2 linked regions of the Homo sapiens genome follow. The protein of the gene in region 2 interacts with the protein of the main gene of each other region in a pairwise test. Each region holds a gene or a part of one and is shown on either strand. Other genes may lie near its edges.

Region 1 (7,026 bases), on a different chromosome or scaffold from region 2:
CACTGTCTGTTCCCTATGCTATAATGTACAAGCAACAGAGAATGGGGGGGATTTTAGTAAGTCTTCCTGGCGATGGTGGTTTTAATAATTGGCAACAAAGGCTACAACTGATGCCAATCTATCTCTGGCTAGGGCCCTAGGACTGCCCTCCAGCCTGGGTTCATATGACTTGTTTCTCTGGACAGGTCTGCTCATGTCTGCTCTCACGGTTTTCATCCTGATTCTATACTTTGTGATTGACAACTTTGTGATAAATCGCAGACCATGGCTCCCTGAGTGTACTCCCATCTACATCCAGTACTTTGTCAAGTTCTTCATCATCGGCATCACTGTACTGGTGGTGGCTGTGCCAGAGGGGCTGCCTCTGGCTGTCACCATCTCACTGGCCTACTCTGTGAAGGTGAGACTAGAACAATCCTATCTCTTCCTTTAGGATAGAGATGGGAGAGAAGGGTACCATGTAACCTTTAGTGAAAAGATAAGCCATTCTATCATCTATAAACTTTGGCTGGTGCCTCACAAGAGCAGAAGTCCCTGGTATTATGGAAGGACCATCTCTGTCAGATGCATCAATGTTGAAATGACCCAGCAGAATCTTAAGAGAATGACAAAAATGGTATCTTGGATTTTTTTTTTTTTTTAAGACAGAGTCTCATTCTGTCACCCAGGCTGGAATGCAATGATGCAACCTCCGCCTCCCGGGTTCAAGTGATTCTCGTGCCTCAGCCTCCCAAGTAGCTGGGATTACAGGTGTGCACCACCATGCCCAGTTACTTTTTGTATCTTTTACAGAGACAGGGTTTCACCATGTTGGCCAGGCTGGTCTTGAACTTCTGACCTCAGGTGATCTGCCCGTCTCAGCCTCCCGAAGTACTGAAATTACAGGCATGAATCACTGCACCCAGTCAGTATCTTGGATTTTTGTGTGGGACTGGAAGATGAAATGTGGAGAGATGTTGGCTAGGAAATGGCCTTTGACCTAGATTTAGGAGAGTCCAGTTAGTCCCCCTCTCAAGTCTTTTCTCTTCTCCTTTGTAGAAAATGATGAAAGACAATAACCTAGTACGGCACTTGGATGCTTGTGAGACCATGGGCAACGCCACCGCCATCTGCTCTGATAAGACAGGCACGTTGACCATGAACCGCATGACTGTGGTACAAGCTTATATTGGGGGCATCCATTACCGTCAAATCCCAAGCCCTGATGTCTTCCTGCCCAAAGTCCTGGACCTCATTGTCAATGGCATTTCTATCAACAGTGCTTATACCTCCAAGATTCTGGTAAGCATTTCCTTTGCGTAGACACTTAGAGTGGGTGGTTGGAAGGGAACATCCATTTTCTCTGAAATGAACCCCCTTATTGTTTACACTGCCTAAATTGCCATCCCACATCCCATTTCTCACGCTGGAGTGAACATGTTTGGGTGAGACTACAGAAAAATCCCTGGGAGTCAATGGAGGGTTGGAGGTAAGGGCCTGTAAGAATCTATGGCCAGGAAATACCCTCCCAATTAGCATGTAAAAGCAATGTCTCTAAGGAGGGAAAGTAGAAAGTAACCCAAAGTAGAATTGGGCTTATCAGAAGTAAATTACTCACTTTCTAGAAACAAGCATAGTGTATTAGAATAAGACCCACACAAGGCGAGACACCAGCACTACCACTAGAGCAAACTACAAAATCCCTAAGCCCTGGATGGCACAAGGATCACGGTTACCACTGACCCCTCTCTGCCTACCCTTGAAAAACAACAGGCTAGGCATAGTGGCTCACTTCTGTAATCCCAGCACTTTGGGAAGCCAAAATGGTAAGATCGCTTGAGCCCAGGAGTTCGAGACCAGCCTGAGCAATATTGTGAGACCTCATCTCTACAAAAATAAACAAAATTAGCCAGGCATGGTTGCGCACCTGTAGTCCCAGCTACTCCAGAAGCTGAGGTGGGAGGATCACTTGAGCCTAAGAGGTCAAGTCTGCAGTGAGCTGAGATCACACCACTGCAGTCAAGCCTGGGCAACAGAGCAAGGTGCTATGTCAAAAAGAAAAAGAAAAAAGATGCCAGGTGCTGTGGCTCATGCCTGTAATCCCAACATTTTGGGAGGTTGAGGTGGGCAGATCACCTGAGGTCAGGAGTTCAAGACCAGCCTGGCCAACATGGTGAAACCCGGTCTCTACTAAAAATACAAAAATTAGCTAGGCATGGTGGCAGGTACCTGTAGTCCCTGCTACTCAGGAGGCTGAGGCAGAAGAATCACTTGAACCTGGGAGGTGGAGGTTGCAGTGAGCCAAGGTCGTGCCACTGCACTCCAGGCTGGGCAACAGAGCGAGACTCCATCTCCAAAAAAGAAAAAAAAAAATGTTATTTCCCCTATGAGCTCCAGGTATATAATGTGAAGGCTTTGTAAATGAGTTCTTTCTCCCTAAGTTCTCTGCCTTGTCAAGGCATCTTACTCAATAGTGCTGTGTATATTTCTTCTCCCAGCCTCCAGAGAAGGAGGGAGGCCTGCCTCGGCAGGTGGGCAACAAGACCGAGTGTGCTCTGCTAGGCTTTGTCACAGATCTGAAGCAGGATTATCAGGCTGTGCGTAATGAAGTGCCCGAGGAGAAGCTCTACAAGGTGTACACCTTTAACTCAGTGCGCAAGTCAATGAGCACCGTCATCAGGAATCCCAACGGTGGCTTCCGTATGTACAGCAAGGGCGCCTCTGAGATCATCTTGCGCAAGTGAGCACCCCCGACCACTCTGCTTCCCTTCAAGATCCTCTCCTCAGGAAGGCATGGGTGCACACCCCACACTGAACCCATGTGAATGAGGGAGCCCTCCAGCCAGGTGGTGACATAATAACTAATATCCAAGCGTCTACTCAGGCCACGCATGTTTTTTAAGTGCTTAAGGTGGCTTGTTGTATTTAATCCTCACAACTCAGTAAGGTGGGTACTATGATTATCCCTGTTTTACAGATGAGAAAACAGAGATATAAGGAAGTTAAGTATCTCACTCAAGGTGATACAGCTAATAGTGGCACAGCCAGGATTCAGACCTGGACGATCCTAAGTTTCCATTTCCTAATCTGAAAACAGAGATAGCCATACTCAGCTCCTAAAAGTACTACCCCCTCACTGTAACTAAATGATTCAATGTATGTAAAATGCCTTATACATAACAAGTACTAGAAACGTTTGTTCTGTGTTCTCTTTTCCTTCTCTTTCCTTCCCATTCCCATTTCTGATTACAGGGAATTTACATAACTTTAAAAGTGACTATTCGGCCAGGCGCAGTGGCTCACGCCTGTAATCCCAGCACTTTGGGAGGCCGAGGCAGGCAGAACACGAGGTCAGGAGTTCGAAACCAGCCCGACCAACATGGTGAAACCCTGTCTCTACTAAAAAAAAATACAAAAATTAGCCAGGCATGGTGGTGCGTGCCTGTAATCCCAGCTACTCAGGAGGCTGAGGCAGGAGAATCGCTTGAACCCAGAAGGCAGAGGTTGCAGTGAGCTGAGATCGCACCACTGCACTCCAGCCTGGGTGACAGAGTGAGACTCCATTACAAAAAAAAAAAAGTGACTATTAATAAATTACCCATAGTTCATCAAAAGTTGGCACTATACCTAAGTAGGGCTGAATTAACCAGTGCTCCAACATGGCTTTAGCCACCTTCTTTTAATCAGCACATTCTTGTATAGGAAACCTCCCCCAAACCACCAGCACCACACAGTGAGCACTATTCTAAATACTCGGATTGAAAAAGTCTCTCTGCCTTCAAGAAGTTCAAAAGAGCAGGTGATTCACAAATGACTTGCATTGCATTCACATATGGGTAAGAACAGATGACATGGGAGAATCCCACTCTCTATATATCTAGACCTTAACTCCATCCACAGCCCACCTACCTTGGAAAGAGGGACTCAGCTGGGTGATGAATGAAGGAAATGTTTGGCCACACTTGGAGCAATGTCTTTAGGAATAATACAGAGTTGCCAAAATACCTGTCAATGATTGTAGAAACGTATTGAGTGGGAAGGGAGACACCGCGTTCTTACTGTGCGCCTCCCCAGGTGTAATCGAATCCTGGACCGGAAAGGGGAAGCAGTGCCATTCAAGAATAAAGACAGAGATGATATGGTACGCACTGTCATCGAGCCCATGGCCTGTGATGGACTCCGGACTATCTGCATAGCTTACCGGGACTTCGATGACACAGAGCCCTCTTGGGACAATGAGAATGAGATCCTCACCGAACTGACCTGTATCGCGGTGGTGGGCATTGAGGACCCTGTGCGCCCAGAGGTGAGAGGGTGGGAAGCCACCCAGGAGTCTCAGGAAGTGGGGTACTAGTTCCCTTTCTAGTTGTGACCCCAGGCAGGTAACCTAACTGCCTCTCACTTAGAGGGATAGAAGTTTCTGTGCTTCCTGCTTCACAGGACTGCTGTGGAGTGCCAGTATGATCGAATGTGGCATTCCTAGGACTAATGCTGTCTGAGTGTTGAGAAGCAAAGGGCTTATTGGGCTCATTATTTGGTACTTAAGTGTTGTCAGGAGGTCAATTTAGCCAGGACACCAACTTTGTCTTTAGCTCCCTCCTTTCAATCAACACATTCTTTTTGAGTACCTGCTGTGTGCTGATAACTATTCTAGACACTAGGGGATTGAAAAGTCTCTGCTTCTAAGAAGTTTAGACAGATGGACTATTAATTCTCAAGGCCCAGAGGCATGAGAGGGTGTCATGCATGTGGGAAATTACAAAGAGCTGATATGGTTGGAACATGGGCCAGGTGGGTGGAGAGTGGCAAAAGCTTCTGCTAGAAAAGAAAGCACTGGCCAAATCGCAAAATGCCATTCATGCCCTGCCGAGAAGTCTCAATTGTAAGTGAAAGAGCAAGTTTTTACACCTCACTCCCAAAGCAAATTTCCCCTTCAACTCATGGTACAATAGGGCAAATTCAAATGTGACTGCCGTGGGTAGGACAGAAGTGAGGTGGCACCCAACAGTATCAAAATGACCAGACCTAGCCCATGCTGCATGGCACCACTTCTAGGGTGCCTTTCTCCTGTCTGCCACAAAGGGACAGACAAACAGGGACAGCTTACCAGGGTCATCACCCTCATCTGCGCCTTTCCCCTTTCTTCACTCTCCATAGGTGCCAGATGCTATTGCCAAATGCAAACAAGCTGGCATTACTGTCAGAATGGTGACAGGTGACAACATCAACACAGCCCGGGCCATTGCCACCAAATGTGGCATTCTGACACCTGGGGATGACTTCCTGTGCTTAGAAGGCAAAGAATTCAACCGGCTCATCCGCAACGAGAAAGGCGAGGTGGGTCCTGGCTAGGGGGAACCAGGACCTCACCTGACAAGGAAAAGGCGGGTTCTAGCATAAGGCATCTGGGTCATGTGCGGGAAGGTGGGTGGTTTCTAAAGTGAAAGCTATTCGTAGTGAAACATCTCCTTGTACCAAACTGCTGATATGGTAACATTGGGAGTTGCCGGCTGGGCGCGGTAGCTTACTCCTGTAATTCCAGCACTTTGGGAGGCCACGGCGGGTGGATCACAAGGTCAAGAGATAGAGACCATCCTGGCCAACATGGTGAAACCCCGTCTCTACCAAAAATACAAAAATTAGCTGGGCATGGTGGCGTGCACCTGTAGTCCCAGCTACTGGGGAGGCTGAGGCAGGAGAATCACTTGAACCTGGGAGGCGGAGGGTGCAGTGAGCCAAGATCATGCCACTGCACTCCAGCCTGGGCAACAGAGCAAGACTCCGTCTCAAAAAAGAAAAAAAAAAGAGGGGGGGAGTTGCTTGTGAATGAAGCTTGCTAGCTTCATTCACAAGCTATCTTTTGAGACAGTGTCACTAACTTTTCTTGTCTTTCTGCTTTTTCAGTTTTTTATACTGACTTCCCCCTAGCCCACCCCTCCTGTGTCCCTGCCCTTTGGCTAACAGTGGCTAAAGGAGAATGTGGTCTGGCGGTGGCACAGATCCAAGCTTTCCTGAGCTACATAGAAATCAAACCTAAGACCTCAGAAGCACCACTTTACCCACCCGAGCCAACAGCCAACCCTGGCCCACCTCCCATTAAAGGTCTGGGAAATGGGGGATTGGCTGCCAGGTAGGGACTTGGGAGGAAAAAGAAAAAAAGCAGGGCCTGAATGGTCATCATCCATGAATCTACCCTTGGAGACTGGTTGGCTGTTTCATCTCTGCTTAATCCAGAATAACACTTTCATGTGGGACTGTGGTGTACCCAATCTCCCAGTGACTCCAAGTGTATGGAGAAGTTAAGATTTTCCTGGATAGCTTTTCTGCATTTGACTGATCCAGGTGTGGTCTGGTGTTGGCAGGTAGAGCAAGAAAAGCTGGACAAGATCTGGCCTAAGCTTCGGGTCCTGGCGCGATCTTCTCCCACTGACAAGCACACCCTGGTGAAAGGTGAGGTTGGCTTCCAAATAGGTGCCTGCAACAGCTGAAGGCAGGCCAGGGCGAGGACAGATAAGAACCACCAGCCAAAGCCACTCTCCTGTCCAAATAGGGAGGTCCTAGGAGAGCTCCCAGGCTAGTGGGGAGAACATACAGTTAGCAAACATCTGAGCCCTTGGTGAGTATGACACACAATAAAGTTGTTGGGTTTTTATTTTTTTTATTTTTTGTTTTTATTTTTGGAGACCGAGTCTTGCTCTGTCACCCAGGCAGGAGTGGAGTGGTGCAATCTCAGCTCACTGCAACCTCCGCCTCGTGAGTTCAAGTGATTCTCCTGCCTCAGCCTCCCGAGTAGCTGGGACTACAGGCGCATGCCACCATGCCTGATTAATTTTTGTATTCTTAGTAGAGACAAGGTTTCACCATGTTGACCAGGCTGGTCTCGAACTCCTGACCCCAGGTGATCCGCCCACCTCGGCCTCCCAAAGTGTTGGGATTAGAGCCGTGAGCCACCGCACCTGGCAATTGCATGGGTTCTTAAAAACATGATCATGTCTTATTTACCAATAGTACTGTGAACTAGGCAGGGCAGGTATTCCCATTTTACAA
Region 2 (7,026 bases):
CCATTCTGGCTTAGACCATTTCTCCATTCGAGATTCAGTATATAGATGGTATGTTAGACTACTCCAGAGAAACAGAACCAATAGGGTATGTGTGTGTATGTATGTGTGCATGCATGTGTATATGTGAGTATGGATAAAGAGAGAGATTTATTATAAGGAATTGGCTCACATGATTATGTTGGTTGGTAAGTCCCAAGATCTGCAGGGTGATCCAGCAAGGTAGACACCCAGGAAAGCTGGTGGTATACTTCTAGTCCAAAGGCTGGCAGGCTCAAGACTCAGGAAGAGCCAATGTTTCAGTTCTACTCTGAAGGCTGGAAAAAAGCTGATGAGCCAGTTCAAAGGCTTTCAGGCAGGAAGAATTCTCCTTTATGTGAAGGAGGATCAATGCGTTTGTCCTATGTAGGCCTTCAACTGATTGGATGAGGCCTACCCACATTAGGGAGGGCAATCTGCATTACTTGATCTACTGATAATAAATGTTAATCTCTTCTAAAAACGTGCTCATAGAAACACCCAGAATAGTGTTTGACCAAATATGTAGGCATCCTATGGCCAAGTCAAGTTGACACATAAAATTGACCATCACAGATGGTGACACTATTGGACGTTTTGTAGAATGTTACTATCAGCTTCATATAGTGTGGCCATATCACTTTAAAAAATCTCATTTCCACCATGATTTTCCCCTGACCCAGGTTGGATGAGTATACCTATTGAAATCATCAGGTACTTACTAACTGATATGCGTGCATGCATGCATGTGCAGGAGCTTAGAAAATGATATCCCAAAATGGAGCCCTCAGAAGTAGCTCTCTCTGACCTTCTCCTGCCCTCCTATCTCTGGCCTTGCATTCATCCCTGAGGCTAGCCCTAGAAAATAGAATCTCTTTTCCCAAGGCAGGTCGTAGAAATAAGAACCCCTTTTCCCCCCAAACCAGCCATAAAACCTAAAACTATCACTCTAGCTTTCCCCTGCCTTCCTTTGTAAAAACTGGCCATAAAGAAATTATCTGACCTACCGTGTTTGATTGTAGCTCACAACAGTTCCAGAGAGGGTCATGACCTATAACCATAAAGAAAGAATGCTGCACAGAGAGGACAAGAAGAATCTAGACAGACAGGCCTTGGTGGGTTTTACCAGTTTGTTAGCCATAGATATAACCCTTTGTCCAATCATATTGCTGCAGAGCTGTCCATACTTTGTTGAATCTAAGCATAAAAATGGACTCCTGTATCTTTGGGTCTTCAGTCTGAAGGTTTCAGTGTCATGCAAAACTATGATTAAATAAATTTGTATGCTTTTTCTCATATTAGTATGCCTTTTGTCAGTTGATTTTTACTGAAATTTCACCCCTACACATGCATATATACATACATACACATATCCTTTTGTTCAATAAACATTCATTGAATACTTACCATAATGCCAAACATTGTTCTAGGTACTAATGATACAAGAACCAATGTCCTTGCCTTCATGGAGTTGATGTCCTGGCAGAGAAACATCTTTGAATACATTGCATCTATCTCCTTATTTTGTTATGTGTTTGGGGGAATACATACGTTTTAACTTCCAATTTTGCTTTTTAAGCTTTTCAGAGAAGAGATTATTTTTAATTCCTTGTACCTCACTCAGAAACTAATAGTACCTCCTACATAGTAGGTAGAGTGATATAAATGTTAAAAATTTATTTTATATCAAGTTCATGGTCTATTTAACTTGAGTTTATATAAATTTTTCTTTGTTTATTTTAATGCTATTTAATGTTATTCTTGTAATACTTCGAGATTCTCCTCTACCCCGATCTATTATCTATAGGATTTGTTGGACCCTATCTATAATATTTTTAATTTTATAATTATATCCCTTTTAAACATTCTTTAAGTCCCTTTAACCTTTCTATTCTATAAATGGTCCACAAAAACATTTTGGTTTTTCCACACTATAAGCTAAGACAGTCCCTGAAATCAGAATGACCTGGATTCCAGTTAATGTCCTACCATCCCTTTCTGTTCATGTAATATTAGGAAAGTTTAAAATCTGTACCTCAGTTCTTTCATTGAAAAAAATGAGCGTAATGAAATGCAAAAATGAGGGTACTTACTACAGAATATTGTAATGGAAGTTCTTGCTACAAAGTGTTGTGAGGAATGAAAGATATAATGCACTCAAATTCAAGCAAGTAGTAAGCCAGTCACATAGTAATCTCTTGAAAAATGTTAGTTTAAAAAATATTGTACTTGAATGAAGCTGACCTTCATATATTCCTTACTTTAAGAAATCAAATTGCCAACTATTTTCAAAAATACTCTATATTTTGGAATCTAGTTGAGTTTAAAACCCCACAATCTGATGGACCAACCAGTGGTCATTCAGATTGGGACCAGACTCCCAGGGCAATTATTTGTCTGGGATATGCCTAATCAGGCATGCTTTAGAATAGGTTCAAACCTTTAAAGCCAATATTTAACTAGACCAATTTCCCAGAACAAATAGTAAAAGGTAAAGGAAATAGATGCTTTCTTCTTGACCTTATGTTCTATTTTAATTTATTGTCCGATGTGTTCACATTAACCTCATTGCAGAGAAAGCTGTATTTATTGGCATCAATTTCACTGACTGCCTGCCTTCTCCATTAATACAATCTTCTTGAGTGAGTGAAACATGATTTTCTTTTGTTCTTTTTTTATACTAGTTGTCATTATGCTGGGGTGAGAATTGACAATAGCAAAAGTGATTCTAGCTATCAGTTATTAAGTGCTGACTATTTATCTAATACTACCTGAGGTACTTTACGTATGTAGTTTCTAATTCTCACAGTAAATTTTCAAGGGAGTTAATCATCATCCCTATTTGTTAATGCGAAGAATGAGACTCAGGTACTTTGTCTAAGGTGGCTTGGCTAGTTGGTAACAGAACTGAAGTGCCTTTGCAATTAATCATGTTGTTTTTTTCTATTAAGTCTCTCATGGAGGGCAATGAGAGGTGCTCATACTCTCCAATTTAACATCTATTTTGTAGAGCCTTCTCTTTCCTTATTGATTATTTTCCTATAGTATGAAGATTGTACCCATCCCACCTGGTGCTACGTGTCAGTAGACACATGGTTCAATAGAACAACCTCATAGTTCCCTGTGCCCCTAGTTTCCCTCTTTCATCAGTTAATTCCTGACATAGGGGGAAGTGGATATTGAAGAGTAATACCACCTTAGTTCTTTATGCAACCTGGGAAATTGGTCACCTGATGGTTCCTGCCTATGACATGGAAAATGATGGGCCAGGTCCTTTTGCTTTTGAATAAGGTCCCATGTTACTAAATTATTCAAAAAAGATGAATTTAGCTTCCAGGACACAGAGTGAGCAGCTTTTATTTAGCTTGTCCTACCAATAGGGAGGGCTGTTGCTGCATTTATTTGTTTTTATTTTATCATCTACCTAAAAAGGACATTGGCTAGCGATCCAGAAAGTCAACATTTGCAAAGTAACCTGTCAAAATTGACAAGATCAATTTATTAGAAAAAAATGGTTTAGGTGGCAGATGCCATTAGCTAGGATGGCTTCTGTATTGTAATATTTACTTTTATTATTCTCTCTCTTTTTACTTTTGTGCCTATTTTCTTTCTAAAATTGATAGAGGGGAAGTGAGTCTGGGTGGTTCTGTCTCAAAATTTCTCCCAGCAGGTGATCCTGGCACTCATCCGTAACGATGTCCTTTTTAGAGAAGCTAGAGGATGGCATGAAAACCAGGTTAAGCATTCTTCTATTTACTTCAAGCTGTGTAGTCAGTTAGAGATGGTTCACATCACTTCAGGTCCCACCTGAGCAGTTCTGACTGCTGCTCACTAAAACCTATTTGTGGGAAATCATAGGAGAAACATAAACTTGGATTTTCTCCTTAAAATGGAGGAAGGCCAGGGATAAAATTGAATAAATATATAACAGAAACACATTTGCCTTTGTAAAATGTTTAAACCTTCTTAGACTTCTGATATCTTTATAGCTATCTGAAGATCATTTTATTCTAATTAAATATTATGTGCTGGGGAAACAAAAGTCAATAAGAGACATGATCCTGGCCTCTGTTAATGTAGAGTATAGTGGGAAGAAAAGACATTAAACTAATTATACATACAAAGAAAAGATGCATGATAAATGTTAAGAAGAAAGAGTGAGAGCATTATGAGAGAACTTACAATAAAAGGACCTAGCCCAGTAGGTTTTAGAGGAGTGATGGGGGAGATGTGTTAGGGAAAGCATCCCTGAGGAACTGATATTTTCATGGGTACCTGAAAGGTGGGCAAGAGGGAATTAGGCTGAGAGCTGAATGATGAGAGTTCAATGCAGTGGACACATCAAATTGGAACTGTTTTGAAGCAGTAGGAGGAGGTTAGTGCATTCAAGGAATAAAAGATCATTATGACTGGACGGTAGTGAGTGAGGGAGAAAATGGTAAAAGATGATGCTCAAGACTAAGGCAGGGCCAGGTTATACAGGGCTTTGTAAGCAATGTTAAAGATTTTATACTCTAAGTGCGATGGGAAGCCATTGAAGGGTTTTATGCAAGAGAGGGACATGGTCAAATTTACTAAGCTCAGACATAACTCTTGAGACTATTTATTTATCCATTTTAAAATTGGGTTTTTCAGAGCTTATAGATTTAAACACATAGTCTTTGTGAAAGTTATTAATTACTTTCACAAGGAAATGCCACTTTCCCAAAAACTTTGCTCCAAGCAGTTGGAAAGGAAGCCTTTCTGGTTAATAAGAGAGGCTATACCATTTCTCCTACCTCTTGATAAATGCTGCTTTTTGGGTGGTTTTGCCAGTGGTGTTTGATTTGGGCGTGTCCACCTACCCCAGTGGTTCTCATACTTTAGCGCGCATCATGACAAGACTAAGGGAGCTTGTTAAACATGGATTGCGAGGCTCAATTCCCAGAGTTTCTTATTCAGTATGGTCGGGTTGGGGCCCAGGAATGTGCATTTTCTAGTACATAGGTGCTGCTGGTCTGGGGTTCATACTTAGAGAACCACTGACATATATATATATACACACACACACACACATATACATATACACCTTGGTGTATATATATGTGTATATATATATATATATATACACACACATATATATATAGTATATATATATAATATGTGTGTGTGTGTGTGTGTGTATATATATATATATATATATATATATATATATATACTTTGCAGAACACCTTGTGGCCATTGGGATACATTTTCAAGGCGTTCATCTGGGGCATGAAGAATTTTCTAGGACTGTGAACTTAAGTCCCCTTAAACACACACTCATACCACCAACAATAACAGCATATTGTTCTCTTCAAAGGAATATTATGAGAAAACGTAGAATCAGTTAACTTAGCTGAGGTCTGGGACAGGGCCATGGACTAAGTGAGGCAAGTAGGGTGAGGCATCCTAAATAAATAAAAACAGAGTGAAGCAGAGCTGCCCTTGTTGGAATAAAGGAGATGGTGGATATGTGTTGAAAGTGCAAATTATTTGCACCTTCCCCAAGCAGGGGCCTTAGAAAAGCCCTCAGGCAAGATGGAGTACTGTTTACAAGCCCCTTGCTCTAATCTTTGAACAGAATGATGCACACTGTCTTGAACAGAGATTGATCTCTTGGGCTAGCTAGAACTATGTTTCTTCTAACATTTACATTTGATTTTTTAAAAACTGGAGTGCTTACTAGGGTGTAGCATTATTTAAGGGTCAATGAAAGAGATGAAAGTGTATGAGATCTGAAGACCCGACATGAAGGAGCCTTGAGTATTATTACATAGATAAGATACAACTAAAGCATGCAGATATTTTGAATCAATGTCAAAATTAGTACTAAAGGCAGTGATGGTTGAAGAATATCATAGAGAGGAAGGATCACACTGAGCTGGAGTGGCTACAGAAAGGAAGCTTTGGGATGAACTTTAGCTGGATTTTTAGTGACTAGGAACGTGAGATTTCCCAGGTAAAGATGAACAGGATCTTTCAGTGTGCTTTTTTCCTCCCTCATTCCATCTTCATTTCTTTCTTTTTCTATACACAAAGCTGAATAAAAGTAGATTTGCTTGTAAATCAAAATTTTTTGAAAACTGGAAGGTGAGTACTAGTTTACTAAGGAGACTTAATGACCCAATTGTACTTTCTTTCAGTTTATGGTTCATAATTCATTCTTTTTATTTGTTATGTTGCCTAGGCTGGAGGGTAGTGGTGCGATTTCAGCTCACTGCAACCTCTGCCTCCCGAGTTCAAGCGATTCTCGTGTCTTAGCCTGCTTAGTAGCTGGGATTGCAGGCATGCACTACCATACCCAGCTAGTTTTTGTATTTTTAGTAGAGATGGGGTTTCACCATGTTGGCCAGGCTGGTCTCAAACTCCTGACCTCAAGTGATCCACCCACTTCAGCCTCCCAAAGTGCTGGGATTACAGGTGTGAGCCACCGTGCCTGGCCTCATAATTCATTATTTTAAATAAATACTTAACTAATAAATTCTATGCTATGTATACTATATGCTATACATAGAAATAAAACAGGTATAATTTGTAGCTCATGGGCCTTACAGATTAAAAGGGAAGACAATATTAAAGAAATAATTATTAAAATATCCTTGTGTTAAGTGCTAAGAAGGAAAATGTTATGGGAGGGTACTCTAGAGTATGTTTCTAAATTCTGATTCTTCTTAATGAAGACAATTGATCTATTGATGAGAACTTGCATTTCCCTTACAGAGAACCTTTTTCAGGTCCTTTAATGGGAAATATTAATTCCTTTAATAGAGAATATTGCTCTTCTTATTTCATTGCTAACACACATGTTTACTGAAGTGTATACTTGTTCTGCAAAAATGATGAGCTTTAGAGTCAGATGGTTATAGTTTTAAATCATGGCATGCTATTTCTCAATCTATTTCCTTGTCTGTGAGATAAATTAGTATAATGTGTACCAAGCAGCTGGCATATAGTAGCTGCTTAATGAAAAGTAGCTATAGTTATTATTTT

Evidence for each region. Proteins that work in one complex are often made in the same cells at the same time.
Region 1: the proteins of RNLS (region 2) and ATP2B4 interact in binary tests that used the Homo sapiens proteins (3 or more experiments, as listed by UniProt).

Annotation. Positions count from the first base shown.
Region 1 is NC_000001.11:203,706,824-203,713,849, forward strand, and holds part of ATP2B4 (plasma membrane calcium-transporting ATPase 4), read left to right. Parts: intron 1-185; coding exon 186-400; intron 401-1,038; coding exon 1,039-1,281; intron 1,282-2,477; coding exon 2,478-2,719; intron 2,720-4,053; coding exon 4,054-4,285; intron 4,286-5,136; coding exon 5,137-5,316; intron 5,317-6,341; coding exon 6,342-6,429; intron 6,430-7,026. UniProt on the Homo sapiens protein: Calcium/calmodulin-regulated and magnesium-dependent enzyme that catalyzes the hydrolysis of ATP coupled with the transport of calcium out of the cell. By regulating sperm cell calcium homeostasis, may play a role in sperm motility.
Region 2 is NC_000010.11:88,573,311-88,580,336, reverse strand, and holds part of RNLS (renalase isoform 1 precursor), read left to right. Parts: intron 1-7,026. UniProt on the Homo sapiens protein: Catalyzes the oxidation of the less abundant 1,2-dihydro-beta-NAD(P) and 1,6-dihydro-beta-NAD(P) to form beta-NAD(P)(+). The enzyme hormone is secreted by the kidney, and circulates in blood and modulates cardiac function and systemic blood pressure.